Linked DNA regions of Homo sapiens: all the other regions are linked to region 1. Evidence: fine-mapped expression QTL. A gene starts in region 1. Each other region holds a variant in brackets. All regions are shown on one strand. Distances are from middle to middle. Region 1 holds the start of NSMF (NMDA receptor synaptonuclear signaling and neuronal migration factor). Region 2 holds the start of ENTPD8 (ectonucleoside triphosphate diphosphohydrolase 8). Region 3 overlaps EXD3 (exonuclease 3'-5' domain containing 3).

Region 1 (10,709 bases):
GGGGTTGGGGCGGGGGTCGTTCTTATCGCAGCTAGCAGCAAGCAAAGCCCCAACCAGCCAAGCGCAACGCCGCCCCCCCACCCCCGCCGCACGGGGTCTTACTCTGGGCCTTCACCCTCCGGCTGCCGACCATGCGCAGGTGTTTGCGGAAGTTCCTGGGGGAGGAAGCCAGGGGCTGAAGAGGGCCGTGAGAGGGTGACGGCAGCCCCTGCCCACCTAGCCCCCGTCGGGTCATGGCTCTACTCTCACCCCTTCGGTGTGGGAAGCCAGTGCTCTCCCTGGCTCCTGGCACCACCTCCCACCCAAAGGCAAATCCCACCCAGTGCTCTTCCCGCGACAGCCTTCCAGGGCTCCCCTTCAACTCCAGAACAAAGGTGCAGTGCCTGGCGCTCTGGATCAAGTCTCCTCCCGAGCTGCATTCCCAGGCTCTGACCTTCCGTCCTCGCCCGGGACTTACGCCCTGAGCCTCCACGCCCATGTGGCAGAGGATCCAGCCTGCCTGCGCTGCAGCAGAGCGGGGCTCCTGTCTGCACCACCCCATGGCGGGCTGGGGGCCTGCAGGAGCCCCCTCTCCTGCTCTGTGTCCTTGAGCCACCTCAGGGGCAGGTCCTCTCCTCCACCAAACTTTGGACCCTGCCAAGGCCCAACATCCAAAACGGGCAAAAAAGCTTCCCAGACACATCTGTGTGATTGGAGTGGGGGAGGGGGGCCTTGCTGCTGGCCCCAGCCCAGACAGAGACACGTGCCCTCGGAGTGCAGGACTGAGGGTGAGATGCTTTCCTGCAGCCCGGGCCACATGGCCTCTCCTGCCTGCCACGTCCCCAGAGCAGGGCCAGGCCAGTGGTCGCCACCACCCTTCCCCCATCAGGTCTGCCAGGGCCGAGGGGGCCCAGGCCAGGCCAGCACAGACCAGAGATGGACCCTGGTGGCGAGTGGCTGGCAGGCCCTACCTCTGGATTACAGACGCGGAATCATTCTCCCGTTTCCGGCGCTTCCTCTCCGCGTAGCCCCTGAACACCCTGGGAAACCACCGCGAGTCAGCACTGCCCTTGGCCGGAGGCAGGAGGGACACAGACGTCGGGACAGTGGTGCGAGCAGAGGGCCCAGCAGGGCGTCTGGGGCACGGGGCCCGGCAGAGGAGTCCCAGCCTGCCTCACCTGTCGAGGCCCAGCTCCCAGCAGGCCCTGCTGCGACCTCGGTGCCCGCTGGGAGCCAGGCCCGCAGAGAGCGGCACTCCCTCAAGACCCAGGTCCCTGGCCTGCCCAAACCTATTTGGGGTGGGAGGGTCTCCCCAGGGACAACAGCTGTGCCCTTAGGCACCAAGTCATACAGGTACTTACGAGATGCTGAAGCCAGGGCCAGAAGGGATGGCGTGAGAGAGAAGACACAGTGAGCTCAACCCCGGGCCTCCCCTCAGCCCCCACCCGGTCCCTACAGTTCCCTTCTTGTCACTGACCCAATAGGTCCCTCACAGGTAACCCAGCCACCAGCAGGATGCTGGCTACACTGCTGGCCAGCCCTGAATGGGCAACGGAAGCTGATGTCACTGCAGCCCATGCCACAAGGACTGGTTGCTGAGACCAGGCAGCCTGAGGCTGGGTGTGGGGTGGACTCCCCCGGGCAGGACACTTCTTTGGTGTGGGGACCAATGCAGCAAAGGGAACTTCCCTGGAAGGAATCCCAGAACAGAAAAGCCAAATGTATGTCAAGACAGAGAGGAGCAGGTCCCTGCGGGGACCCTGAAACTGTGATGACCTATGGCACGTATGAAACAGAAGTAGGCTTCTATTTGGGGTTTGAGGGAGGGCAGACACAGGCTGAGGAGAGTGGATAGGAGCAGGAGAACCTGCCACACCCCACACCCCACTGAGAGCTCATCAGCTGCAGCCCTGGGCCAGGTCCCCTGACTGTGTGTGTGTGGGGGGGGGGGCTGGGCACCAGCCATGGGAGGGGAAGAGCAGTCAGCCCTGGCCTCCCTGGCAGGCCTGGCACAGCATAGGCACGTGGGTCTGTTCAGAAGCAGCCCCCCTGGTAGGCCCAGAGACTGGGAAAAAGTGCTGTTTCCTGAGCAGCAGAAAGAGACCACCCAACCCTGACCCCAAGTCGTGGGCACAAGACTCACGCTTGCATAGTTGTGGTTGCTGTCTGGAAGCTGAAAAGATTTTCCTTGGGGAACCAGGTACGAATAGGGATGTCGTCTAAGAGAGACAAAAAGGAGCGGTGGCTGGGTGAAGTAGGGGTTCCTGAAGCCTCTCCCTCCCTGTTGGGAAGCAGATGCTTCTGGGTCCAGGGGTCAGCAGAAGCTGGCAGCCAGGGCGGGTGGGGGGAGGGTGGCATCCCCACACGGGCACAGAGGGCAGTGCTCGAATGTCTGCTGCTCACTCACCAAGACCACGCTCTTGGTAACTTGACGCTTTGATTTTTTTGGCTTAACTTTCCCTTTGGCCACCCAAAGTTTGAGAAACATTCCTTTGAAAGCACAGTCTGTCTCCAGGAGGCCCAGGAAAACAATGCGTCTGTTTCCCTTGGGCAGAAGAGGCTCTGAGGCCTTCTCTGCAGCCCCCATGCTCTAGCTGGAGGCCCTCACCGAGGCTAGAGACCACCTTGCTGAGGGCTGTCCCCTTCCGAGGGCCCCCACAGCCTTTCCCTGATGCCCAAGTGTGGGGACAGTGGAGTGACTTTCTGCCTGGTGGACAAGCTACCACACAACTCAACAACCCTGGGGAAAGATGCCCACTGCCTGGCTGGGCCCCAACAGCTCCCCAGGACTCTCGGAGGGCAGCCCAGTCTCCTGATTAAGCGGTGCTTCCTCCCTACATATCCCTTAAGATCCTCCCAGGCCCCCTCCTCCAGGAAGCACTCCTTGATTGACCTGGTGCTAGCAGGGCGAAAGCGGACTGTGAGGCCTGGCAGATTTTGCTGAGGAGCTGAGGGAGCTCACAGCTCATAGGGTGTGGAGGCCGCAGCAGAAGCCTGCCGGTTTTAATCTTGAGTCCGCTGGCATGCTGTGACCTGAGCACCTGTTCTCTGTTCCAAGCCTCACAGTGGCTGCTGCTGTCAGACCCTGGCAGCGGCATGCACCCCCAAACCTGTCTATGCCCTGACACAAACCCCTCACCAGACACACGGTCAACGCTGTACATCCTCTCCAGCTTCTTGCGGCGACCGGAGGTCTCAGGCAGAGGTGGCTGGTCCAGCCCAAAGGCCCGAGGGGTGGGGCCAGGAGCCAGCTGGGCACATCCGGGGCACTCCTTGGAGCCCTGGCGGCTGCCCGCCCAGCTCTGGCAGGGCCTGCTGACGTCCTCCCGGCTGCCACCAGGGCTGGCGCGCAGGGGCTGGCTGTGATGGTGAGGGTGCCGCTGCCGCCGCCCCTTCACCACCGCCAGCTCAATGGCCTCCGCCTCAGGGCTGGGCAGCAGGGCAGGCTCCCCAGAGATGGTGTACACTCGAGGCTGAGGGCCCTCGCCTGCGGGCTTCCTAATGCTGGGCTCCTCTGAGAGGCTGCCCTCGTAGCAGCCGTTGGAGACGAGGGACAGGCGGCGCTTGTTCTGGGGGGCCGGCTGCATCTCGGGGGACCCGTCGTGGCCAGAGTAGGCATCAGCCAGCAGGTGATCTAGGAGAGACACTGAGTGAGCCTGCCTGCCGCGTGTGGGCCCCCCGCTGCCGGTTTCATAGCAGGCCGAAGGCAGAGAACACCCAGTGGGCACCTGGCCTCTGTGGGGGACTAGGGCTGCCCAAACCCTAGTCACTGGCGTGTTTCTGAGCCCCTCACTCCTATCTGGGCCTGAAGCTCTAGCATGTGCGTGGGGGCTGGGTGACGCTGTGCTACCTGTGTGCGGTCCTGCCGGGTAGGAACACGCAGGCCATCCCCCAGCCTGCGATCGCACCGTTTGCCTGGTGCCAACTTCCCCCTCCCCCCACCAGCTGGCCCCCAGAGGCAGTGGTGCCAGCCCTGGGGGAGCCAGGAGGCCTGTTGCCATGCCAACGGCCCAGGCGGGGTGGGTGCCATGGTGACGAGCGGCTGGGAACTGCTCCTGGGGCTCGGGCAGGGAGGGCAGGGGATGTAAGGAAGCCAGGCCGGCAGGGCGCCGGGCCCACGCGCAACCAATGCCCCTCACGCTCCACCCCCGGAGGCAGGGATCAGCATCCCTTGGGCTGGGGGGTCTGGGCGGCCCTGGCACGGCCTCGCGTGCCCCTACCTGCGCCGTTGCGGTTCTCAGGGTGACTCTGGGACAGGTACTCTCCAAACGCTCGGGCTGCTCTGAGGGTGGACAGAGGGCACGGTCAGAGGCCACGGCACGACCCTCCCAAACACCGGGCCGCGCAAGAGCCGGGGGTCCGGTCCCCAGCCAGGCCCTCGGCGTCTGGAAGGAGGGTCGGGGTCGTCCCCCTCCGGGAGCCCACACACCCTTGGTCCTGGTGCGCCCTGGCCAGGCCTGCAGGCCCGGCCCCTGCCCGTCGGACCGTGGAGAGGGGTCGCGAGGCCGGTCGGCTGCTGTTCCCCGGGGGAACCGAGGCCACTCCCGACCTGGGGGGTGCGCTCGCCCACCACGCGCTCGCGAGGGGAGGGGAGGGAAGAGCAGGGCAGGGGACCAGGAAGAGGGAGGCGCGGGGCGCGGGGAGGGCGCCTCAGTGGCAGAGGCCGGGGCCCGGGAGCCCGGGGAGCACCGCGGGGCAGGGGCGGACTCGGGCGGGGTCGGAGGTCCAGGGCGGGGTGCGGGAAGGCGGCCCCGCCGCACTCACCGCACTTTGGCCGCCACCGAGGACATGGCCTCGCTCCTCAGCGCCCTCCTCCTGGAGGCGGCGGCGCCCATGGTCGAGGCGGCGGCGCATCCCCCGGGCCTCAGAGCGCGCCCCGCGCCCGCCGCCTCCGCCGGGGTAGCCGCGCCGCACCGGGGGTCGCGCTCGGGCTCGGGCTCGGGGTCTCGCTCGGGCTCCGGCTCGGGCTTGGGCTCGGGGTCGGGCTCGGGGTCGGGCCCGGTCCCCGCATGGCCGCACCCGGCGCTCCGCGCGTGCCGCCGCTCCCGGGAGAGCGCTGCCCGAACCGAGGGCCGGCCCCGCCCATCGTGACGTCAGGGCCCGGGCGGGCCCAGAGGGGCGGTCGGCCCCACCTACCGTGACGTCAGGGCCCCGGAGAGCTCGGAGAGGACATGTGGCCCCGCCCACCGTGACGTCCGGGCCCGGGTTGAGTTGGGGGCGGGGCCGGGCGGCCTGGCTCCGCGCCCTCTCGTCCAGGCCTCCAGAGCGGGGAAACTGAGGCCAGCGGCCCCCTGGTCGCAAAGTCCTGGGCCCTCGGCCCTCACGATCTGCTGCTCAGACCTGCAGGATCACAGGGAGGCCGGTTCTCCCTCCCCTTACACAAAAGGGCTCCCTGTGCAGTTTGGGAACTGGAAACCGAAGGGGAAGCCAGTTTAGGGGGCACCCAGTTTGCACGAGGCCAGAGAGAGACAGAGGGGCCCGTCCTGGTCCTGGGGGGCCACAGCTCTATGCAGACTCTGGACGCCCTACCTGCCTGGCCTGCATTTGCCGCCCTAGGGCTCTCAGGCCCCAGCAGTGGGGTCCTTTGAGGAGGACTGGGGACTGCCCAGCCTCAGGGACCACCCGCATCAGGGAGAACCAGTAGTGTTTCTTTGCCACAGGGACCTCGGCCCGGGAGACACGTCCAACAGTGAGATCCACCTTTATTGAAACATCACACGGCAGCATCAGGGCTCCCACACCTCACAGGGCAGCAGGCAGTTCACAGGACAGCAGGCAGTTCACAGGGCTTTGGGGGCCTCACAGGGCAGCAGGTGGTTCACAGGGCTTCGGGGGGCCTCACAGGGCTTCGGGGGGCCTCACAGGGCTGCAGGGGGTTCACAGAGCTTCAGGGGCCTCACAGAGCTTCAGGGGCCTCACAGGACTGCAGGGGGGCTCACAGGGCCCTGTATGCAGGGCTGCTGGTACAAAGAAGAGGCCCAGAGAACCCTAACACAGCCTGGGGCCCCGGGGAAGTCAGGGCTTCCAGCAGGGCAGGTACAGAGGCCCCTAGGACTTGGCAGGAGCCTCAGCCTTGGGGACAGTCCCACGGAAGACGCTGCATCCGGGCTCTTTAGCAGAGGCCTCTACCCGTCCTGGTCAGAGGAGCCCTCAGACAGTTTTGGGAAAGCCAGACTGGGGTGTCGATGCCGCAGTGAGGACTCGTCCTCCTGCAAGCAGACCGCATGTTCCAGGTGAGGACCAGGCAGGGCAGGGGCTCTGCAGCGCTGGTAACCCGGTGGGACCACAGGGAGGGAGTGGCCGGCACAGGGCCAGGCACCAAGGCTCAGCTGTGGGCACCAGGTGGGACCATGCCCAGCTCCTCACCAAGTCTGAGCCCTGCTGGGCTGAGGTGCTCTGGAAGTCTGCGTATGCATCCCTGGGGACGTCCAGCAGCTCCTCCTCGTACTCCGTCTGGTAGTCAGATTCGTCTGGCACCGAGGGTAGGGCTGCGTCAGTCCCCTCCCAAGGAAGGGACCGTACCCAGCATAGCCACACTCAGAGGCAGAACCGGCCACAGATGCCCACCCCCGCCTCCAAGGTGGCCCGGGGCCCTACACGCAGCCACCTGGTCCCAGGGCAGCCCTGCACACCACCCCTGGTTCTGTCTGGCTCCAGCTTTGCCCCAGCACATCACTTCGTGGGTCTTCCACAAGGACAAGGAGCGGGCAGACACTCCTCCCCTTGTCAGCCAAGCACCCTGAGGGCTCCAGCACCCCAGACCTGGCAACTGTGGATAGGGGCTGCCTTGCCCAGGGCCCTCTCGGCCTGCGGCAGCCATGAAGACGTCTCCCAGGAGAATGTCCAGTTCTGCTGTGAGGAGGCCACTGGCTGAAGGCCCAAGCGCAGGGCCCTGGATGGAGCATGGAGGGTAGTGGACCCGCCCTTCTTGTCCTGCGGCCCCTCCAACAAGCAGCCTTCATTCCCATTTCCCACTGGGTGGGGTGGGAGGCAAAACGTGGTTCTACTTCAGGCCTGAGGTGTGGCTGGGAGTTGAGGTGAATGAAGGGCAGGGGCTGGGTGACCCGGGGTGGTCACAGTCCCACTGCTGTGGGAACACGTGGTGCCCGGGACGGAGGAGTGCCACCAAGCACCCCAGCTGCTGGAGCCTGGGCGTGGACGTGGGCGGGAGGGGAGGCCGTGGGCCTCTGGGGTGGGGGGGTTCAAGCCCAACACAGCATCAGGAGGTCACGCACGTCTCCACGGCTTCGTCTTGCGCCTCCACTCACCATCCACCATGGCGGGCTTGGCGGGCTCAATGCGAGACACAATTTCGGCAAGGTCCGTGAAGGAGGCGTTGGGACAGGTGAGGACCTAGGGGTGGGGTGAGGACAGCACGTTGCCTGTGGACACCCGCCTGCCAGTCCCCAGCCTGCTTCCTGTGGGGAGGCCCCACCCACCCTGCGCCCTCTCTGCAGCCTCCGCCTGCCCCCCAAGTAAGGGCAGGGACCGGGGAGATGCGCAGTCCTGAGCAATCCTTGTCCTGGCCCTGGAGTCTTTGGCCAGGGGGGCAGGGCCTGTGGCCTGAGGAGCTGGGCGTGGCCTGATGAACTGGGCGTGGGCGTGGCCCGAAGAACTGGGCGCGGTCCGGGGAGCTGGGCGTGGTCCGGACGCCCGTACTCACCGCACTCGCGGGCTTCTTGCTCGGCCCCTGCTGGTCGCGGAGCATCTTCTCCAGCACGCCGCTGCGGCCCCAGATGTCAAACACCGTGCGCCCGTGCTGGTAGCCCACTTCCTGTGCACACCCCCAGGGCCCCGTCAGGAGGTGTGGGGAGCCCCCCACTTCCTGTGTTCTCAAAAGGGGGAAGCGAGGAGGGGCAGCCACCAGAGTGCCTCCGCCCGCCTCCGCCGCCGCGGGTGGCCGGCACTCACGCAGATCTCGTTGAACTTGCCGAAGTCCAGGGTGCTGTAGCTGTCGATGGGGGGGCGCAGGTACTCGCAGTAGTCACTGCTCTTCACCACCTCCAGCTGCCGCACGCAACACACGTAGGCCAGGCGCGTCTGAATCTCTGCCATGTTCAACACCTGCTGCCGTCACAGCCGCCTGAGTCTCCTGCCCCGGCCCCTACCCCGTCCCAGCCTGGCCCGTGGCGCAGGACAGGTTCTGGGGACCCATCCTCTGGGGTAGGTAGGTTCTGGGGGGAGAGGGTAGCAGCACCCGGCCGGGGGTCCTCCCTGCGGGCTGCCACAGCCTTCAGGCCCGTCCGGCCTCGTGCCTTCCTTCGCCCGAGTTGGGCTCAGGCAGGGGTGGTGAGGGGTGGCCCCAGACCTGCTGGCCTCAGAGCCCAGGAGCGACCCCCACTCCCCTGCCGCAGGACAGGTGTGGAGCTGCAGGGAGGAGCAGCAGGGACAGCCCAGCCTGCCCGGTAGCACCCCACCTTGACTTTCGTGGCCAAGGGGTTCCAGCGTTTCCACAGCAGCCACCACCCAGACAGCGCATCCCCATAGTTGGTGAGGTCCGTCTCATCTCGGCTGCCCACGTCAATGGCGATCACCACTTTTGCCCCCATGGACCGGGCCACATCCGCTAGGGAGAAGCCAGCCCTGGTTACCCCCTGGACAGGCATGCAGAGCCAGGGGACGGGGGCAGAGCCTGCCTCTCCGAGCCCTGACGTGGGGGTTGTGGGGTCTCCTCTCCGCCATTACACCTTCTAGAGGCAGAAGACCCACATGCCCAGCTCGATGGGCAGCTGTGGGCACACGGCTGTGTCCTGGGCCTTTCTGACCGTATATCCCACAGGTGACAGGAGTGGCCTGGCCTGGCCCCCAGCAAGCTCGACACCTGCAGGCTGTTAGTTTCTGACTGTGGGCACAGATGGGGCTTAATTGCTCCCAGTTCCTCGACTTGGCCTTTGTTCTGCATGCTGCTGAGCTGACAAACAGGGCCATATGCTGGAGCACATGCTGCCGGTGCCTGCGTGTGCATGTACACGCGTGTGCATGTTCTCGGAGCTCTGATGCCAGCCTGACATTTTCCCTTGGCATACTCTAAGGAAAACGTGTTCCAGCCCAGGCTTCTTGGAGCGGAGGCAGCTGTGGCAGGGGCCGTGGGGCGGCGTGACCCAGGAGCCTGTGCTCCTGCCGGGCGTGGTCCCCCCACCGCAGTACCTGGGAGGTTGTTGATGTAGCCCCCGTCCATCAGCAGGTGTCCGTCCTTCGGGTCACAGAGAGGGGGCATGTAACCGGACAGGGACATGCTGGCACGCACGTACCACCACAGGGAGCCTGGGGAGGGGGCCCGGAGCTGCTGGTTACCCGGAGGAGGCTCCTCCTGGGTCCAGGGTTCAGGGCCTTGCCACTGCAGTCCTGGAGCTGGTAGGTCCCAACTCTCTGAGGCCGCCTCCACAGAGGGAAGCTCATGGCCCAAGGGCTGAACAAAATTGAGTTCTTTCTCTGGGGTCGCACTGCATTACATGTGCCCAGGACTTCGAACTGCTGTGACCCCCTCACCCCAGGACTGAGGGAGCCCCTCACCCCATGACCGAGTGAACCCCTCATCCCCCTGAACCAGGTGAGCCCCTCACCCCAGGACTCAGGGAGCCCCTCACTTTGTCCTCTCACATGGTATCCATCAGTCTAGCCCAACATTGCTGATTCTGTGAGGGTCTCCTCCAGCCTTCTGAGGTCTCTGGCCCAGGCCACGCCCCCTCCTGTCTGTGCCCCTAGTAGGGGCATCCTGTGTCCTCCATGGACAAAGCTGCCCATACGTCTGCATCCTTCAGGAGACCCCGCGGCCTTCCCAACCCCTGGGGCTGCTGAGCTCTCCCCCTGCCCACACCTCGCACCCAAGCGGCCGCCCTGCGCAGCAGGAGTGCTCACCGTCGGTGTGGACCCGCATGGCCGAGGCTGTGATGTCGGTGGTGATGGCGAAATAAGGAATCCACAGGTCCTGCGGGCGGACGGGGCTCAGATGGGCCCTCTCCCATCACGCTCCTGTCCTGTGTCTGGGGAGGCTGACCCAGGGCCAAGAGGTGGGGGGCCAGGAGGGGACAGGCACTGGGGGCTGCATGGGCTCCTGAGGGTGGGGGTGCACCTCGATCTGCTGGTCCTTGAAGACGCTGAAGATGCTGCTGTTGAAGCCGGCTCCGGAGAACATGGACGTGATGGGGTAGGTGAGGTCCAGCGCGGCCTTCATCAAGGACGTCATGCCCTGGGGCCACATGTGGAATTTACAGAAGGCTTCCACCCTCCCTGCGGGCTGCCACAGCAGACACGTGGCGTGCTGAGGGCCTCTCATGAATGGAACGGGGGTCCAGAGTGTCCTTGGGCCCCACCCACGGTCCTGAGGCTTGGCGCCCTGGCTGGAGCCTCAGAGTGAGCAGAGGCTGGTGGTCGCCCCAGGGCCTGAAAGCCAGGACACAGCCCACCCTCGGTCCCTTCCTGATCCCTAAGCCCTCGCTGGCCCTACCCTCGCAGGCTCTGCAGCGCCCCCATGCCTGGGGCCTCCTCGGCTTTGCCTGCTCAGCTCTGGGGCAAGGCCTGCCCATGCCCGTGGCTGGAGGGTCAGCGAGGAGGAGAGCTCGGGGCGGGCTGCTGGGCACATGAGGTTCCTGGGCCAGGGGGACACAGTGGATTGCTTTCGGGAAGGTCAGAGCCACCCAGCCCTGGCTCACATGCCACTGCGGTACTCCATCAGGGGTCCCGGGGAAGCCGGGCTCTCTTGGGTTCCTTCTGGGTGGGCCTGGGGCCCA
Region 2 (9,663 bases), 23 kb before region 1:
CTCTGGAGGGGCCCCAAGGCTCCCGCCCCCCATGGGGGCCCAGCAGCGACTCCATCCCCCGAGTCCTCCCGGACACCCCGGCACCTGGGGAGAGGCGGAGGAAGGCAGGAACCCCAGCTGCTCCCAGGGTGGCAGCCGTGGGCGGAGGCTCTGCTGCAGGATCCGGGAGGCCCAGAGAAGGCACCTGCATTTCACGCTGAGCGCATCTGAGGATGCGATCAGGAAGCAGCCCCGGCACTCTCTCTTTATGGATGCCCACTTCCAGTTTAACCGTGGCATCCCGGGGGCAAGGGCGCCCTCCAAGCTGTGCTTCACTAATTCCCTCAGGGTTTGGAACTATTTGCCCAGTTCCCACGATGGGCCTTTAAGCTCTCGTCCTTCCTAACCTAAGGCAACTTCAACCATCTGATAAATCTAATAATAAGTTACAATCGAGGCCGGGCACAGTGGTCTGTAATCCCAGCACCGTGGGAGGCTGAGGTGGAAGGATTGCTTGAGCCTGGGAGGTGGAGGCTGCAGTGAGCCATGACAGTGCCACTCCACTCCGGCCTGGGCAAGACAGCAAGACCCTGTCTCAAAAAAAAAAAAAAAAAAAGCCAGGCGAAGTGGCTCACGCCTGTAATCCCAGCACTTTGGGAGGCCTAGGCAGGCGGATCACAAGATCAGGAGATCGAGACCATCCCGGCTAACATGGTGAAACCCTGTCTCTACTAAAAAATACAAAAAATTAGCTGGGCATGGCGGCGGGCACCTGTAGTCCCAGCTACTCAGGAGGCAGAGCCAGGAGAATGGCGTGAACCCAGGAGGCGGAGCTTATAGTGAGCCAAGATGGCGCCACTGCACTCCAGCCTGGGCGACAGAGCGAGACTCCCTCTCAAAAAACAACAGCAATGCCTGACCCTCAGGGTCTAGCCAGCGCTGGGCTGTGACTTTGTGACTTGCAGCTGGTGAACTGGTCTCCTGCTCAGTGCCCAACTCAGGGCACACGGTTAATGTCGAGCCCACACAGAGGCCGGGGCCCAGGGACTGGGTCCTCAGCTTCCTGGGGTCACTGGGGAGCCCACCCACCTGGAGCTGCCACCTCGGTGGGCCTTGGGGGACGGGGCGCTCCCTCCTGGTGACAGGCAGCCTCTAGGTCTGCAGGGACCCAGCCCCATCCTAAGGCAGCCGACTTGTGGCCAGTGCCCTGAATTCAACACCCACAGACCACCTGCTGGGTGCTGGCCGGGCACACAGGCCACACCCTTGGTGTGGGCTCTGCGAGGACAGTACCGGCCTCCAGCACCTGACCGCCCCAGCCCACCCAGCCTGTGCTTCTCTTGCAGAGGCCCCAGGTGGAGCAAGTTGGCAAACAGGCTCCTCTCTCCCCAGGTATGGGCGTCCTCAGCGGCGGGGTCCCCGGGTGAAGGAGGAAGCTGCTGGTGCATGGGTGCCGGCTGCCCTCCACCCACAGGGCCCACTTTGGTGGTAGTGGCTGTGTCAGTCTTGCTCTGTCCTACAGGGCTGCCGGCAATGGGGGGGCCTGGCCCCGGCCCCTGTGAGGACCCCGCGGGTGCTGGGGTAAGAGGCTCTAGACCCTTCACCTGTCAGTCACCTGAGGGAGGCTGAGGCCAAGCCCCATCCCTCAGAATCAAGGCTTGCAAGCCCCCCTCACCTGCCCAGTCTCTGTCCACACCCCTCGGGCTGAAGACGGCCCTGACCAGGCCCTGGGCCTCAGCGACCACCCCTCCCCCTCCTGCCTGGACCCAGGGAGCAGGTGCAGGGGGCTCCGAGCCCCTGGTGACTGTCACCGTGCAGTGCGCCTTCACAGTGGCCCTGAGGGCACGAAGAGGAGCCGACCTGTCCAGCCTGCGGGCACTGCTGGGCCAAGCCCTCCCTCACCAGGCCCAGCTTGGGCAACTCAGGTGGGCCAGAAAGCCCCCGGTGGCTGCGGTGGAGCTGGGCACCGCCCCGACTGAGGCAGCTGCTGGAAGAGGGGGTGGCAGAGGTCACTGCCCTCCCTGCAGGCCCCACCCAGGAGGCCCCCTCTGAGGAATCTCTTTGCAGTTACCTAGCCCCAGGTGAGGACGGGCACTGGGTCCCCATCCCCGAGGAGGAGTCGCTGCAGAGGGCCTGGCAGGACGCAGCTGCCTGCCCCAGGGGGCTGCAGCTGCAGTGCAGGGTGAGCCAAGGGCGAGGCAGGGGCAGGGGCACCCTGAGGGGCGGTGGAGGCCCCTCCTCCCAGTGCCCGGCCCGACCTGCAGCCCACTCTCCTGCCTCAGGGAGCCGGGGGTCGGCCGGTCCTCTACCAGGTGGTGGCCCAGCACAGCTACTCCGCCCAGGGGCCAGAGGACCTGGGCTTCCGACAGGGGGACACGGTGGACGTCCTGTGTGAAGGTAGGGTGGGCATGGCCCTTCCCAGGCAGCACCGTGGTGCCCGGGGTGTGGGGGGCTTAGAGCTCGGCCTGTGCTGTGAGCAGACGTGGCACCCAGAGGCCACGCCTGGGTAACGCCCTGCAGAGCCCGATGTCCCCCTTGCAGTGGACCAGGCATGGCTGGAGGGCCACTGTGACGGCCGCATCGGCATCTTCCCCAAGTGCTTCGTGGTCCCCGCCGGCCCTCGGATGTCAGGAGCCCCCGGCCGCCTGCCCCGATCCCAGCAGGGAGATCAGCCCTAATGATGCTGTGTCCATGATGCTTTTAATAAAAACAACCCCCACTGCAGTCTCACCCTCCAAGTGGGTGTGGGAGGCCGGGCTGGCCCAGCAGAAGCCCCCAGGCCTGGACTCCATCCATCTGCTCAGACAACAGCAGGGAGAGCGGGGGTCCAGGTGGGGCAGCTCCCTCCCTTCCACCCCTCTCCGCCCCTCCTGAGGCCCCATCAGGAGCAGGACCCCTGTGCCTCCGTGGTCTTGCCCTGTTTGCAGGCAGCATGTGGCCCTGCAGTCACACAGCCTGGAGACACCACGAGTCCTGGCGGCCTGTGTGCAGAAAGGCACCTACGGCCCTGGAAGCCCAGTTGCGGAAGGAGGTTGGGGGAGGGACGCCGGGAGGGGAGGTCATGCAGCCTCTGTGGCCAGCACCACCCTGACGGTGCCCTGGAGGTGGCTGTCACCTGACCGTGGGCAGAGCCACAGAGCAAGGCCCCACGGCGCTCAGGGCTCAGGAAGCCTCCAGCATCCGGGACGCAGCTGCCTGTGGGCTCTGTGGGGGCCCACCTCCGCCTTCCCACTAGTCCTGCAACCAGAAGAGCTGGACCAAGGCAGCCCCCACCACCGCCACCAGGGCCAGCACCATGAACACCACTTTGGCCACCCAGACGCCGTAGCTCTCTGCCCGCCACTGAGCCGGCGCATCGGCCGGGATCATCCCGGTCAGGTTCAGCATGTAGCCCAGTGTCCAGCCAATGTCCACACCGCCCGCCTGCGGGACACACGGCTGCTCAGGGCTGCGGGGCAGCTACCCCAGGACCACGACCTGCCCACGCCCACGCCCCGCCCACGCCCAGGGGAGGCAGTCACCTGCTTTCGGAACTCGAGGCTGGGCCAGGTCTCCTCGCTGAACCCGTAGCCCTCGTGCAGGAGGGTGAGGATGTACAGGCCTGAGGCACAGTAGTCCCGCAGCCAGCGGTCCTGCCCAGGGTAGCTGGCCTCCACCTGGGGCCCAGGAGACCAAGAGGCGAGGTGAGGGCCCCTGATCCCCAGTCATGCGGGGACCGCCCCATCTGTCCTGGCCAACCTGAGCACGCAGACAACAAGAGGGTGCCGGGCAGTGGTAGAGAGCCCCTCCCTGGCCCCACCGACCAGTTACGTGGTGCGGGTTGCGGCCCCTTCTTGGCGGGCCAGAGGCTGGGCCCAGCTGC[G/A]GCCGTGGCCACAGCCTCCTACCTGGAGTGGCACGGCCTGGAGCTGTCCTCTGCCCTTGCCTCCCCCGGCCCTGCTGGCCGTGCTGCCCAGAATGAGGCTCCAGCATCCTGCCCGAGGCAGCCCTGTACCCTCAGGGACCCTCGCTGCAGCCAGGGAGCCCAGGGCCCACCCACCAGTTTCCAGGGCCTCTGGCAAAACTCCCAGATGGTGGCGTTGACCGTGCTCAGGGGCTGCCTGGAGGTGAGGTTCAGGAAGTGGAAGGTGTAGTAGAAGTTGGAGAAGGCCTGAGTGAGAGGGGAGGTGGCTGTGCCTTCGCTGTGGCCACGCTGGGCCAGATCCACCCCACCCGGGCTCCCAGAGCCCCTAAGAGCCAGCCTGGGCCCCTCCTGGGCCTGCTGGAGTCAGACAGGCACCTGAGGCCTCACAAGGAAGCCCGGACCCCTGGTGGGGGCAGTGTAGGTGCTCACATAGAACTGGCCCCGCAGCGGGGGCTGGTAGACCCCGTCAAAGGCGCAGTCCTCCTGGCCCTGGCAGCTGGAGAAGTTGAAAAGTTCCCGGATGGCTGAGACGCAGGCTCCAGGGTTGCCTGTCCCTTCAACTGTGAGGTTCTGGGGGAGGCTCAGCGGGGGCGTGGCGTGGACACAGGGTGACTCATACAGCGGGCCCAGGGCCAGTGTGGTCTGGTAGCCGCTGAGGTAGCACGGGTGACGGAGCAGGGCAGCCGGGCGGCTCTGCAGAGGGCAGGGAGGCCTGAGCACCAGCCGCACACCTGCGGCCCTGTGCCCCTCCCCGGGGCCGGATGACCCACGCCAGCCCCGCGCCCATACCCTGTGCGCCCTCCCCGGTGCCGGATGACCCACGCCAGCCCCGCGCCCATACCCTGTGCCCCCTCCCCGGGGCCGGATGACCCACGCCAGCCCTGTGCCCATAGCCCTGTTCCCACAGCCCCATGCACCCTCCCCAGGGCCAGCTGACCTGTACCAGCCCCACGAGGAGCCTGCTCAGCATCTGGTCCCGTCCAAAGCACAGGTAGCTGTGAGTGTAGACGCTGTAGTCGGAGCCGTAGAGGCGAAAATCGGCCTGGGTGCTCTTGTCCAAGATGGGGCCCCCAGGCACGAACGTGATCTGGGTGGAGGCCCCTCCCATGTCCAGGGCACCCACCAGCATCTCCTCCGGAGGCTGGATCCATTCTCCAGTGAAGGAGTACTGGGCACAGAAGGGGCCACTCAGCTGGGAGCAGCCACCCGGACCCCGTCCCGGTCAGCCAGCCCCAGACACCAGCCCCTCGCAGACCAGCCCCCGCCCTCAGGCAGCCTGTGGCACCTTGACCAGCGTCCCCAAGCCGTAGTTGACAGTGATCCAACCAAAGGCACCTTCGGCCTGCCCGGCCAGGAGCTCGGCACCCCAAAAGTCCACGGGAGACCGGCCCAGGACCTGGGTGACTGCTGCAAAGATGTCCCTGGCCTGAGAGCTGTTCTTCCGGCTGGGCACAGAGGACCAGGGGCTGGAGCTGGCTGGAAGCCTGGGCCCGGCCCCACCCTGCCTGCCACGCTGGCTGAGACCATGGCTTCTGCAGCCACTCCCCGTGGGTGCCAAGGCCATGCCTGCCTCACCTGAGCAACCTCATGCCAGCCGTGGCCCCCAGGAACGTGGGTGTTTTCCGATGCTGGGCCTCTGGGATCAGCACCAGCGCCTCCTCCAAGCAGCCCTGCAGGCTCTCACCAGCCTGTGCAGCATTAGAAGTGTAGGAGGAGATTCCAGGCCCTGGAACAGCAGCCGGGGACAGAGCTCCAGACCCCGCAGGCTGGCTGGGCTGAAAGGTAGCCCCCAAAGACATGACCACCTCATGCCCCCTGGTGCAGCCACCAGCCAAGGGCTGCGTGGAGTGCTCAGGCTGAAGGAAGCAGGAAGGACCCTAACCCAGAGCCTCTGGAGGGGGTGCGGCCCTGTCCACACCTTGTTTTCAGACTTCTAGAATGCTGAGAAATAAGCTGCTACTGTTTTAAGCCCCCAATTTGTGGTAATTTGTTACCAGAGCCCCCAGGAAACAAATTCGGGGCCTCCTGTTTTCCCCTCTCAGGATCCTGGAGTGCAGGCACCCCTGTAACTACCAGCCTCGGCTGCCAGCACCACGTGGTGCCAGGGTGGGGAGCACCAGGGGCCAGAGAGGGTCAGGGCTGGAGGCAGCAGATGCTGGGCAGACCCAGGCCAGGCCATGAGAATCTGACTGCTCACCAGGATCAGGCAGGGAGGTCCCCAGAGTGCCACCGCGTGAACGCAGGCTCCGGCCCAGCACCCATGCCCGGCGTGTGAGCTCAGCCAAGTCACTGAACCTCTCCAAACCCTTTCCGTGCAGCTGGGAATCCCAGCCAGGCAGCAACAGGCAGGTCCCAGCACCGGGCTGCAGAACAGCCCACTAACCTTCCACCTGGCAGGCCAGGGCCTGGCTGACCACACCCGTGCCATTCTCCTTGTTCGCCAGCCACTGATACAGGAAGAGGGACGTGTGGGAGGAGCCCGCATCAAACACGATCCCAAACTGGGGAGACAGTGGGATGAGTGGGAGGCAACACCTGTGGACCCGGCCCGGCCTCCCCTGCCGGCGGGGACGCACCTTGATGTCTGTGGGCAGGAGCACGCTGGTGGCCTCCACCAGGAGGAGAATGAGTGCCGTGAGGCCTGAGACCCCCGAGGCCCCCAGCAGGGCCAAGAAGACCTGCTCCTTCCGGGACAGCCCCATGGTGCAGGTGGTACTGGTTCCTGTGGGGGGACGGCCGTGGGCACCCAGGCTGCACTTGGTGTCCCCATCCCGCCCTCCAGAGGCAGAGGCTTCGCTCCCCGTCTCCCTGGAGACGCACCCCTGGACAGCCACTTGCCTTAGAGGCATCTCCGGGGCTCAGACGCCTCCCGTGGCCATAGAGGCATCCCCGGGGCTCAGACGGTCTCCCGTGGCCTTAGAGGCATCTCCGGGGCTCAGGCGGCCTCCCGTGGCCATAGAGGCATCTCCGGGGCTCAGACGGCCTCCCGTGGCCATAGAGGCATCCCCGGGGCTCAGACGGCCTCCCGTGGCCATAGAGGCATCCCCGGGGCTCAGACGGTCTCCCGTGGCCATAGAGGCATCCCCGGGGCTCAGACGCCTCCCGTGGCCAAGGACCACTCCCCAGGAGCCACGCCTGCCAGGGGTGCCATGGGCATCAGAGGGCCCTGTGGGAGGGGGGCGGGGGGCAGCAGAGGCCTCGTCTGGGGACACAGCCCCAGCAGGATCCAAGTAGCCCCCTCGGACCCCCTCGGATGGGACTCGCGGAGCTGCCCCCACCATGTGATGGGGCCACCCTGTGTCCCCACCCCTCGGTCCTGCCTCTCCCGTGCCACCCTCCCCAGGAGCAGCCACAGCTCCAGCCTGCACTGGGGGCCCAGGGCTCTGCCTCCTCTCTGCGGCCCCCACCCCAGGCACTCCTAGGGTGGGGGTTTCTCTCTGGAGCCCTGAGGGGACTGTTGCCGAGGGGCTGTGGGTGAACCCAGGGTGAGGCCAGCCATCCTAGGAAGCCGAGTGTGAGGCTTCTTAACAACATCGGTTTCTCTGGAAATCCAGCCCAAGGCTTCCCTAATCTGACTCTGCACCTTCTTAGCTGGTGCCAGATGGCGCCTGGTCGGGAGGTGGACCCAGGGATGCCATCTGAGGGGCCTGGGCTTCTCTAGCCCTGTGGCCGAGGTGTCCACCTCCTCCTCTGCCCAAACGCCCAGCAAGGGTCTCAGCTCTCAAACTACCCCAGGCCGACCCTGTGCCCCATACAGCCCCACTTCACACGGGTACCACTGCCAAAGGAGTGGTCAAAGCCAGAGGCTGCCTGCCAAGGTCCCGGCACCTGAACCCCATGTGACCGTGTCCTATCGTGTTCCCCCGGGAAACGTTGCACCCACACTGAGTGGCAGGCGCGGGTGCTGCCCTGGTCCTGACCTGGGGCTCCTGGGCACGTGGAAAGTGGGACACGCTGTGGGGTCCTCACGCAATTCTGTATGTCCGGGGGATATAAGCCCATTTTAAGGAGGGTAGATGACAGAGGCTCAGAGAGGACAGGAGGCCGGTCCAGCCCAGACAGGGCCCAGCCTGTGTCCCCAACCAGCACCCAGGCCATAGGCCACCTCATAGGGACAAACAGGTGACAGGGGCCAGGAACACAGGGACTCCACACCCAGAAGATGTAGCCACCTGAGACCCCCAGGCCTGAGCCTCCAGGTAGGCAAAGAGGTTGGGGCAACCTCTCCCACACTCAAAAGACCCCCAAGACCAGAACAGCCTCCCAGATCAGAACAGCTCCTCAGACCAGGAAAGCGCCCCCCAGACCAGAACAGCCCCCCCGAGACCAGGACAGTGCCCCCAGACCAGGAGAGCCCCCCAGACCAGGACACCCCCTCAGACAGAACAGTCCCCCAGACCAGGACAGCCCCCCAGACCAGGACAGCCCCCCCCAGACCAGGAGAGCCCCCCAGACCAGGACACCCCCTCAGACAGAACAGTCCCCCAGACCAGGACAGCCCCCCCAGACCAGGACAGCCCCCCAGACCAGGACAGCCCCCCCAGACCAGGACAGCCCCCCCAGACCAGGAGAGTCCCCCAGGCCAGGACATCCCCTCACACAGAACAGTCCCTGAGACCAGGACAGCCCCCCCAGACCAGGACACCCCCTCACACAGAACAGACTCCCAGATCAGGACAGCCCCCCAGACCAGGACAGCCCCCCAGACCAGGACAGCCCCCGCCAGACCAGGACAGCCCCCCCCAGACCAGGAGAGCCCCCCAGACCAGGACACCCCCTCACACAGAACAGATTCCCAGACCAGGACAGCCCCCAGACCAGGACAGCCCCCCCCAGACCAGGACAGCCCCCCAGACCAGGACAGCCCCCCCCCAGACCAGGAGAGCCCCCCAGGCCAGGACACCCCCTCAGACAGAACAGTCCCCCAGACCAGGACAGCCCCCCAGACCAGGACAGCCCCCCCCAGACCAGGAGAGCCCCCCAGACCAGGACACCCCCTCAGACAGAACAGTCCCCCAGACCAGGACAGCCCCCCCAGACCAGGACAGCCCCCCAGACCAGGACAGCCCCCCCAGACCAGGACAGCCCCCCAGACCAGGACAGCCCCCCCCAGACCAGGACAGCCCCCCCAGACCAGGACAGCCCCCCAGACCAGGACAGCCCCCCCAGACCAGGACACCCCCTCAGACAGAACAGTCCCCCAGACCAGGACAGCCCCCCCAGACCAGGACAGCCCCCCAGACCAGGACAGCCCCCCCAGACCAGGACAGCCCCCCAGACCAGGACAGCCCCCCCCAGACCAGGACAGCCCCCCAGACCAGGACAGCCCCCCAGACCAGGACAGCCCCCCCAGACCAGGACACCCCCTCAGACAGAACAGTCCCCCAGACCAGGACAGCCCCCCCAGACCAGGACAGCCCCCCAGACCAGGACAGCCCCCCCAGACCAGGACAGCCCCCCAGACCAGGACAGCCCCCCAGACCAGGACAGCCCCCCAGACCAGGACAGCCCCCCCAGACCAGGACACCCCCTCAGACAGAACAGTCCCCCAGACCAGGACAGCCCCCCCAGACCAGGACAGCCCCCCAGACCAGGACAGCCCCCCCAGACCAGGACAGCCCCCCAGACCAGGACAGCCCCCCAGACCAGGACAGCCCCCCAGACCAGGACAGCCCCCCCAGGACATCCCTTTGGACCCTCACCTGGGCTGGCTGCCCACTTCCCGGAGCGGCAAGGAGGAAGCTGTGCTTAGACGCTTCTGTGTCCGCGCACCTGGCGTCCAG
Region 3 (10,709 bases), 130 kb before region 1:
AACTGAACTCTCATGCGTCACTGGCGGGAAGGTAAATGGTGTGGCCGCCGTGGAAAACAGTGTGAAGGTTCCTCAAGAAGTTAAACACAGAGTCAGTAGAGGATTCAGCAGTTTCACCTTTAGCTGTATATGCAAAAGAACTGAAAGCAGGAACTCAAGCACATCCTCATACATCAGTGTTCGTAGCAGCCACATTCAAAAAAAAAAAGGAAGGACGTTCCGACACAGGCTACGTCGTGAATAAACCCTTACGACACGCCGAGTGAAAGATGCCAGATACAAATGGGCAGATACTATATGATTCCACGTCTACGAGGTACCTAGGACAGGTCAATTCATAGAGGCAGAAAGTGGAACAGTGGCCACCAGGGCTAGAAGGAGGGGAGGGGAGATAACTATTGGTACGGAGTCTTTTTTTTTTTTTTTTGAGACAGAGTCTTGCTCTGTCGCCCAGGCTGGAGTGCAGTGGCACGATCTTGGCTCACTGCAAGTTCTGCCTCCCGGGTTCACGCCATTCTCCTGCCTCAGCCTCCTGAGTAGCTGGGACTATAGGCGCCCTCCACCACGGCCCGCTGATATTTTGTATTTCTAATAGAGACAGGGTTTCACTATGTTAGCCAGGATGGTCTCGACCTCCTGACCTTGTGATCCGCCCGCGTCGGCCTCCCAAAGTGCTGGGATTACAGGTGTGAGCCACCGCGCCCGGCCAGTATGGAGTCTTTGGGATGATACCCAGTTCTGGAAAGGGGTGGTGGTGATGGATATGTGATACAGTGAATGTGCTAATGCCACTGAATTGTACACTTAAAAATGGTTAAAATGGTCAATTTCGTGTTATGTATGTTTTACCACAAAAAGAAAGAAAAAAAGGGAAACAGAAAGTAGTTACTTCGTGGTAATAACAAATATACACCCATATGATGAGTAAAAACAACCAATATATACCTATATGATGAGTAAAAAACTGATATACACTCATATGATGAGTAAAAACAACAAATATACACCCACATGATGAGTAAAAACAACTAATATACTCCCATAGGATGAGTAAAAACAACAAATATACACCCACATGATGAGTAAAAACAACTAATATACACCCATATGATGAGTAAAAACAACGAATATACTCCCACATGATGAATAAAAACAATGAATAAACACCCACATGATGAGTAAAAACAACTAATATACTCCCATATGCTGAGTAAAACAACTAATATACTCCTATATGATGAGTAAAAACAACTAATATACACCCATATGATGAGTAAAACAACTAATATACTCCCATATGATGAGTAAAAACAACGAATAAACACCCACATGATGAGTAAAAACAACTAACATACTCCCATATGATGAGTAAAAACAACTAATATACACCCATATGATGAGTAAAAACAACGAATAAACACCGACATGATGAGTAAAAACAACTAATATACACCAATATGATGAGTAAAACAATTAATATACTCCCATATGATGAGTAAAAACAACAAATATACACCCACATGATGAGTAAAAACAACAAATAAACACCCACATGATGAGTAAAAACAACGAATAAACACCCATATGATGAGTAAAAACAACTAATATACACTCATATGATGAGTAAAAACAACGAATAAACACCCATATGATGAGTAAAAACAACTAATATACACTCATATGATGAGTAAAAACAACTAATATACACTCATATGATGAGTAAAAACAACTAATATACACCTATATGATGAGTAAAAACAAAAGTAAAAACAAACACAACTGGTAAATAAAGTAAATATACGGGAAAAAACCAAAGGAAACGGGTCAAAGGGAAGAAACAGACTAGTTACACAGGAGCTACACGGGACTACACGGGACTACACGGGGCTACACGGGACTACACGGGACTACACGGGGCTACACGGGACTACACGGGACTACACGGGACTACACGGGGCTACACGGGACTACACAGGGTCACACGGGACTACACGGGACTACACGGGACTACACGGGGCTACACGGGACTACACGGGACTACACGGGGCTACACGGGACTACACGGGACTACACGGGGCTACACGGGACTACACAGGGTCACACGGGACTACACGGGACTACACGGGGCTACACGGGGCTACACGGGACTACACGGGACTACACGGGGCTACACGGGACTACACAGGGTCACACGGGACTACACGGGACTACACGGGGCTACACGGGGCTACACGGGGCTACACGGGAGCTACACGGGACTACACGGGGCTACACGGGGCTACACGGGGCTACACGGGAGCTACACGGGGCTACACGGGGCTACACGGGGCTACACGGGAGCTACACGGGACTACACGGGGCTACACGGGACTACACGGGGCTACACGGGGCTACACGGGGCTACACGGGAGCTACACGGGAGCTACACGGGGCTACACGGGGCTACACGGGAGCTACACGGGACTACACGGGGCTACACGGGGCTACACGGGACGACACGGGGCTACACGGGGCTACACGGGAGCTACACGGGGCTACACGGGGCTACACGGGAGCTACACGGGGCTACAGGGGGCTACACGGGGCTACACGGGACTACACGGGAGCTACACGGGGCTACACGGGGCTACACGGGACTACACGGGAGCTACACGGGAGCTACACGGGACTACACGGGGCTACACGGGGCTACACGGGGCTACACGGGAGCTACACGGGAGCTACACGGGGCTACACGGGAGCTACACGGGAGCTACACGGGACTACACGGGGTCACACGGGACTACACGGGACTACACGGGACTACACGGGGTCACACGGGACTACACGGGACTACACGGGACTACACGGGGCTACACGGGACTACACGGGACTACACGGGGTCACACGGGACTACACGGGACTACACGGGACTACACGGGACTACACGGGGCTACACGGGACTACACGGGACTACACGGGGTCACACGGGACTACACGGGACTACACGGGACTACACGGGACTACACGGGGTCACACGGGACTACACGGGACTACACGGGGTCACACGGGACTACACGGGACTACACGGGACTACACGGGGTCACACGGGACTACACGGGACTACACAGGAGCTACACAGGACTACACAGGACTACACAGGACTATGCAGGACCACACAGGAGCTATACAGGAGCTACACGGGACTACACAGGACTACACAGGACTACACAGGACTATGCAGGACCACACAGGAGCTATACAGGAGCTACACGGGACTACACAGGACTACACAGGAGCTACACAGGACTACACAGGACTACACAGGACTACACCGGAGCTACACGGGACTACACAGGAGCTACACAGGAACTACACAGGAGCTACACAGGGCTCCACAGGAGCTACACAGGAGCTACACAGGAGCTACACAGGAACTACACCGGAGCTACACAGGACTACACCGGAGCTACACGGGACTACACAGGACTACACAGGACTACACAGGAGCTACACAGGAACTACACAGGACTACACAGGAGCTACACAGGGCTCCACAGGAGCTACACAGGAACTACACAGGAACTACACAGGAGCTACACAGGAACTACACCGGAGCTACACGGGACTACACAGGACTACACAGGACTACACAGGAGCTACACAGGAGCTACACAGGACTACACAGGAGCTACACAGGGCTCCACAGGACTACACAGGAGCTACACAGGACTACACAGGACTACACAGGAGCTACACAGGACTACAAAGGAGCTACACAGGAGCTACACAGGAGCTACACAGGACTACGCAGGACCACACAGGAGCTATACAGGAGCTACACAGGAGCTACACAGGGCTCCACAGGAGCTACACAGGACTACACAGGACTACACAGGACTACACAGGACTACACAGGAACTACACAGGACTACACAGGAGCTACACAGGACTGATGGACTTCTCGAGGGCAACAATGGAGCCAAAAGGTAGTGGAGGGTTTTCAAAGTTCTGTAGAGCTACAAGAATAAACCCGGCAACACTCTCTTTCAAGAAAGAGGAAACAGAGCTTATTAGAAAGGAAAAATGGCCCCAATTAAAGAACAAGGAAAATTCATTAACACGAAGGAGTTTGTCATTTCCCAGAGGAAGGTCTGCCATGCAACAAGTGGTCCACACATCATCAACACTAAAAGACGTCAAGACCATAAAACAAACATGATAATGTCTAATTTGCAGAATTAAGGAAGACAGCATCGTGTTAACATTCTGGAAGATGACAGCAGGGAAGGTATGAAAGACAAGTTGACCCTGCAAACGGAATCCAACAGCACATTAAAGCAATAATTCACCATGACCGAGTGAGTTTCATCCCAGGGATTCAGGGGGGTTCAACATGTGCCAGTCAGTAAGTTTGATTCATCACCTAAACAGAATTAAAAACAAAAACTACACGATCATCTCAGTAGATGCATACAAAGCACTTGACAAAATCTAGCATTGTTTTACGATAAAAATCCTCAACCAACTAGGCTTGGAAGGAACATACCTCAAAATGATAATAGCCATATATGACAAACCCGCAGCCAACATCATACTAAATGGGGAAAAGTGGAAACAGTCCCCCTGAGAACTGCAACAAGACAAGGATGCCCTCTCACCCTCCCACACTCACCCTCCCACCCAACATAGTATTCAAAGTCCTGACCAGAACTATCAGGAAAGACAAGAAAGAGAGGGCATCCAAATGGGAAAACAGGAGGTCAAACTATCTCTGCCAATGTTATGACTGTATACCTCGAAAACCCTAAAGGCTCCTCCAAAAGACTCCTCGATTTGACAAATGGATTCGGTGAAGTCTCAGGTTACAAAATAAATGTGCACAAATCAGTAGCACAACGACCAAGCTGAGAAGGAAACCAAGAACTCAGGCCAGGCGCGGTGGCTCACGCCTGTAATCCCAGCACTTTGGGAGGCCCAGGTGGGTGGCTCACTTGAGATCAGGAGTTTGAGACCAGCCTGGATAACATGGTGAAACCCCGTCTCTACTAAAAATACAAAAATTAGCGAGGTGTGGTGGTGCACGCCTGTAGTCCCAGCTACTCAGGAGGCTGAGGCAGGAGAATTGCTTGAACCCGGGAGGTGGATGTTGCAGTGAGCCGAGAGGGCGCCACTGCACTCCCGCCTGGGCAACAGGGTGAGACTCCGTCTCAAAAAATAAAAATAAATAAATAAAAAAGTGAAAAAAGAACTCAATCCTTTTTACAATATCTGCGCAACGACAACACACACACACACACAGAACAAACCTAGGAATGTACTTAACCAAGGAGGTGAAAGACTCTACAAGGAGAACTACAAAATACTGCTGAAAGAAATCATGAATGACGCAAACAAATGGAAATACATCCCATGGTCATGAATTGGAGGAATCGATATTGTGAAATAACCAAACTGCCCAAAGCAATCTATAGATTCAGTGCAATTCCTATCAAAGTACCAACATCGTTTTTCACAG[C/A]ATTAGAAAAAACAATCCTAAAATCTGTATGAACCAAAAAAGAGCCTGAATAGCCAAAGCAGTCCTAAGGAAAAAGAACGAATCTAGGCCGGGCGCAGTGGCTCACGCCTGTAATCCCAGGACTTTGGGAGGCCGAGGCAGGTGGATCACAAGGTCAGGAGATCGAGACCAGCCTGGCCGACATGGTGAAACCCCATCTCTACTAAAATACAAAAAATTACCGGGCATGGTAGTGGGCACCTGTAGTCCCAGCTACTTGGGAGGCTGAGGCAGGGGAATCCCTTCAACCTGGGAGGCGGAGGTTCCAGTGAGCCGAGATTGTTAAAGGGTACATGGTATTGGCCAGGCGCAGTGGCTCACGCCTGTAATCCCAGCACTTTGGGAGGCCAAGGCGGGCAGATCACAAGGTCAGGAGATCGAGACCATCCTGGCTAAAACAGTGAAACCCCGTCTCTACTAAAAAGCACAAAAAAACTAGCCATGCATGGTGGCGGGCGCCTGTAGTCCCAGCTACTTGGGAGGCTGAGGCAGGGGAATCCCTTGAACCCAGGAGGCGGAGATTCCAGTGAGCCAAGGTTGCGCCACTGCACTCCAGCCTGGCGACAGACTGAGACTCTGTCTGTCAAAAAACAAAAAACAAATCTGGAGGCATCACATTACCCAACTTCAAATTATACTTGTGAGGGTTTATATTGAGTGTCAACTGGATTGAAGGATGCAAAGTATTGATCCTGGATGTGTCTGTGGGGGTGTTGCCAAAGGGGATTCACATTTGAGTCCATGGACGGGGAGAGGCAGACCCACCCTCAGTGGGCACCGTCTAATCAGCTGCCAGTACGGCTAGAATAAAGCACGCAGGAGAAGATGGAAGAGCAGACTTGCTGAGGCTTCCGGCCCCATCTTTCTCCCGTGCTGGATGCTTCCTGTCCTCGAACATCAGACTCCAAGTTCCTCAGCTTTTGGACTCTTACACGTACACCAGCGGTTTGCCAGGGGCTCTCGGGCCTTTGGCGGCAGACTGAAGGCTGCACTGCCAGCTTCCCTGCTTTTGAGGTTTTGGGACTCAGACGGATCCACCACTGGCTTCCTGGCTCCTTAACTTGCAGACGGCCTGGGTGAGACTTCACCTTGTGATCCTGTGAGTCAACTCTCCTTAATAAACTTCCTTTCGTATGCACATCTATCCTATCAGTTCTGTCCCTCTAGAGAACCCTGGCTGACACTATACTACAAGGCTCTGTGGTATAATTTGAATGTGTCCCCGCCCAAATCTCATCCTGAAATGCAAGCCACGGTGTTGGAGGTGGGGCCTGGCCTGGAGGGAGGCCACTCGATCATGGGGGAGGATTTCTCAGGAGTGGCTTAGCACTGTCCCCCTTGGTCCTGTCCTTGCCTGGTCGTTTAAAAGTGCGTAGCGCGTCCCCTCTTGCTCTCTCGCTCCTGCCTTCACCATGTGACATGCAAACTCTTGCTTTGCCTTCTGCCAGGACTAGACATTTCCAGAGGCTCCCAGAAGCAGATGCCAGTGATACGGTTCCTGTACAGCCTCCAGAACCATAAGCCAGTTGAACCTCTTTTCTTATAAGTTACCCAGTCCCAGGTATTTCTTTTTTTCTTTTCTTTTCTTTTTTTTTGAGACAGAGTCTCACTCTGTCACCCAGGCTGGAGTACAGTGCAGTGACGTCATCTCCGCTCACTGCAACCTCCGCCTCCCAGGTTCAAGTGATTCTCCTGCCTCAGCCTCCCGAGTAGCTGAGACTACAGGCGCCCACCACCAAGCCCAGCAAATTTTTTTTTTTGAGATGGAGTCTCGCTCTGTCACCAGGCTGGAGTGCAGTGGCGTGATCTCGGCTCACTGCAATCTCTACCTCCTGGGTTCAAACGATTCCCCTGCCTCAGCCTCCCGAGTAGCTGGGACTACAGGCACCCGCCACCACACCCGGCTAATTTTTTGTATTTTAGTGGAGACGGGGTTTCACCATGTTGGCCGGGCTGGTCTCGAACGCCCGACCTCAGGTAATCCGCCCACCTCTGCCTCTCAAAGTCCTGGGATTACAGGCGTGAGCCACTGCACCTGGCCTCAGGTATTCCTTTATAGCAATGTGAGAAGGGACTAATACAGTATAGTTACCAAAACAGCATAGTACTGGTATAAAAGTAGATACATAGACCAATGGGATGGAATAGAGAATCCAGAAATAAAGCCAAATACTTACAATCAACGGATCTTTGACAAAGTATAAATAAACATCCGTTGGAGAAAAAGACACCCTATCTAGTAAGTGGTGCTGGGAAAACTGGCTAGCCACATGTAGGAGAATGAAACTGGATCCATACCTCTCACCATATACAAAACCCAGCTCAAGATGGATGAAAGACTTAGATGTAAGACTCGAACCATAAACATTCTAGAAGGAAATCTAGGAAAGCTCTTCTGCACATTGGCTTAAGCAAACAGTTTTGACTAGAACCACAAAAGCAAATGCAACAAAAACAAAAATAAATAAATGTGACCTAATTCAACTAAAAAGCTTCTGCACAGCAAAAGAAATAATCATCAGAGAAAACACCAGCCCACAAGGCCGGTGGCTCACGCCTGTAATGCCAGCACTTTGGGAGGCCGAGGCGGGCGGATCACGAGGTCAGGAGATCGAGACCATCCTGGCTAACACAGTGAAACCCCATCTCTACTAAAAATACAAAAAATGAGCCGGGCATGGTGGCAGGCGCCTGTAGTCCCAGCTACTCGGGAGGCTGAGGCAGGAGAATCACTTGAATCTGGGAGGTAGAGGTTGCAGTGAGCAGAGATTGCACCACTGCACTCCAGCCTGGGTGACAGAGCGAGACTCTGTCTCAAAAGGAAAAAAAAAAACAAACAAAATAAAAACAAATAGCCCACAGAATGGAAGAAAATATTTGCAAACTATGCATCTAACGAAGAGGTAATATCAAGAATCTACAAGGAACTCAAACAAATCCGCAAGAAAAAAACAAAGAATCCCATCAAAAAATGGGCAAATGACACATGCATAGACATTTCTCAAAAGAAGATATACAGATACGCAGCAAACGTGAAAAATCGCTCAACCTCACGAATCATCAGGGAAATGCAAATTAAAACCACAATGAGATACCACCTTGCCCTAGCCAGAATAGACATTATTAAAATGTAAAAAAGACCAGGCGTGGTGGCTCATACCTATAATCCCAGCACTTTGGGAGGCCAAGGCGGGCGGATCACGAGGTCAGGAGTTCGAGACCAGCCTGCCCAACAAGGTGAAACCCGGTCTCTGCTAAAAATACAAAAAATTAGCCAGGTGTGGTGGCAGGTGCCTGTAGTCCTAGCTACTCAGGAGGCTGAGGCAGAAGAATCACTTGAACCCGGGAGGCGGAGGTTGCAGTGAGCCAAGATCGCGCCATTGCACTCCAGCCTGGCAACAGAGCTAGACTTCATCTCAAAATAAATAAATAAATAAATAAATTAGTACAACATCTGTGAAAACAGCATGGAGATTTCTCAAAGAACTAAAAGCAGATCTACCGTGTGCTCCAGCAGTCCCACTACTGAGTATCTACCCAAAGGAAAAGAAGTCATTATATCAGAAAGACACCTGCGCACATGTTTATCACAGCACAATTCACAACTGCAAAGACATGGAACTAACCTAAGTATCCATCAAGCAATGAGTGGATTAAAAAAATGTGGTATATATATACCATGGAATACTACTCAGCCGTAAAAAAGAACAAAATAATGTCTCTGCAGCAACTTGAATGGATCTGGAGGCCATTATTCTAAATAAAGTAACTCAGGAATGGAAAACCAAATACTGCATGTTCTCACTTATAAGTGGGAACTAACCTATGGGTACACAAAGGCATGCAGAGTGATATAATGGACACTGGAGGCTCAGAGGTGGGGAGGGCAGGAGGAGGAGTAAGGGATAAAAAGACGACATATTGGGTACAATATATACCATTTGGGTGACAGTGCAGTAACGTATCAGACTTCATCATTACACAATTCATCCATGTAACCAAATGCCACTTGTACCCCAAAAGCTATTGAAATATATGAAACATAAATCGATGTAAGATCCCTGACTTAACTGTAACTTTAGATATCGTTAACTCAAATATACGTGTTAACATTTCTCGGCCATGTGTGGTGGCTCACGCCTGTAATCCCAGCACTTCGGCAGGCTGAAGCAGGTGGATTACTTGAGGTCAGGAGATCGACACCAGCCTGGCCAACATGGCGAAACCTCATATCTACTAAAAATACAAACATTAGCTGGGTGTGGTGCTGGGTGCCTGTAGTCTCAGCTCCTCAGAAGGCTGAGGCAGAGCTGCTTGAACCTGGGAGGCGGAGCTTGCAGTGAGCCGAGATTGTGCCACTGCACTCCAGCCTGGGTGACAAAGTGAGACTCCGTCTAAAAAAAAAAAAAAAAAAAATTCTAGGGCAATCCCTACAAAGAAAAGAAATAAATCCATGGCAAAATATGCATATTTTAAGAAAACAAGGAAAGCAATAGCAATAGAATTTATAGCTTTCAAATTGACTGAAGGAAAAATAGAATGAAGGTAAAAAAGCTAAAAGCATGAAAAAAAAGAGGAAAAAGAATAGAAAAAGTTGTACAAATAGAAAGCACAAATTAAGATAGTACGACTAAACCCAAATTCTATCAATACTTAACAATAAACATAAAAGGACTAAACTAATAAGTTAAAAGGCAAAGACTGTCAGACTAGATTTTTTTAAAAAACCCAACTAGAAACAGTTTACAAGAAACACACCTACTATATAAAAGAAGGTTGAAAGTAAAAGGATGAAAAAGTGCTTTACGAGTAATAACCAAAGAATAATGGAGAAATGGTATTAATGTTAGTTAAAATATATTTTATAGCAAAGAGCATTACTGGAGTCAAAGAGGTTCACCACATAATTATAAAAGATTTCACACAACAGAAAGATATAAGAATTCTAATAATAATATGCATATGCACCTACTAACATAACTTTAAAACATATAAGGCAAACACTGACGTAACTGCATGGAAAATCTGATGAATGTACCATCACAGGAACCTTCTGTATGTCTCTCTTGGTAGAATCAGGCAGAAAAGTAAATAGGATAAAGATGATTTAGGCTGGGTGCGGTGGCTCACACCTATAATCCCAGCAGTTTGGGAGGCCAAGGCGGGCGGATCA

Evidence for each region. PIP is the estimated chance that this variant, and not a neighbour inherited with it, causes the effect.
Region 2: its variant is fine-mapped to the expression of NSMF in transverse colon (GTEx, PIP 0.99).
Region 3: its variant is fine-mapped to the expression of NSMF in blood mononuclear cells (TOPMed, PIP 0.94).

What each region holds. Positions count from the first base shown.
Region 1 is chr9:137,454,289-137,464,997 of GRCh38, forward strand. NSMF (NMDA receptor synaptonuclear signaling and neuronal migration factor) reads right to left here and starts at 5,046. Exons shown (of 16, transcript NM_001130969.3): 1 at 4,744-5,046; 2 at 4,200-4,261; 3 at 3,119-3,613; 4 at 2,123-2,198; 5 at 1,341-1,346; 6 at 951-1,019; 7 at 103-155. The coding sequence starts at 4,814. PNPLA7 (patatin like domain 7, lysophospholipase) reads right to left here. Exons shown (of 35, transcript NM_001098537.3): 27 at 10,052-10,168; 28 at 9,838-9,907; 29 at 9,127-9,243; 30 at 8,397-8,545; 31 at 7,891-8,043; 32 at 7,643-7,753; 33 at 7,248-7,332; 34 at 6,346-6,449; 35 at 5,664-6,188. The coding sequence ends at 6,105. RefSeq lists enhancers at 567-1,448, 3,230-3,927, 6,751-7,684, 7,685-8,617 and silencers at 4,567-4,836, 4,927-5,276.
Region 2 is chr9:137,431,704-137,441,366 of GRCh38, forward strand. It overlaps NOXA1 (NADPH oxidase activator 1), which reads left to right. Exons shown (of 14, transcript NM_001256067.2): 9 at 1,326-1,371; 10 at 1,502-1,560; 11 at 1,750-1,904; 12 at 2,047-2,161; 13 at 2,262-2,376; 14 at 2,521-2,703. The coding sequence ends at 2,657. It overlaps ENTPD8 (ectonucleoside triphosphate diphosphohydrolase 8), which reads right to left and starts at 9,654. Exons shown (of 10, transcript NM_001033113.2): 1 at 9,583-9,654; 2 at 6,457-6,602; 3 at 6,264-6,381; 4 at 5,456-5,606; 5 at 5,166-5,325; 6 at 4,818-5,048; 7 at 4,310-4,573; 8 at 4,016-4,126; 9 at 3,501-3,635; 10 at 2,661-3,402. The coding sequence starts at 6,582. The coding sequence ends at 3,211. RefSeq lists silencers at 4,342-4,596, 4,558-4,607, 9,514-9,663. The variant G/A (reference allele first, on the strand shown) is at 3,842.
Region 3 is chr9:137,326,725-137,337,433 of GRCh38, forward strand. All of the region lies in intron 17 of EXD3 (exonuclease 3'-5' domain containing 3), which reads right to left. Among named protein-coding and RNA genes, the nearest start is that of NRARP, 30 kb to the left of the region's middle. The variant C/A (reference allele first, on the strand shown) is at 5,498.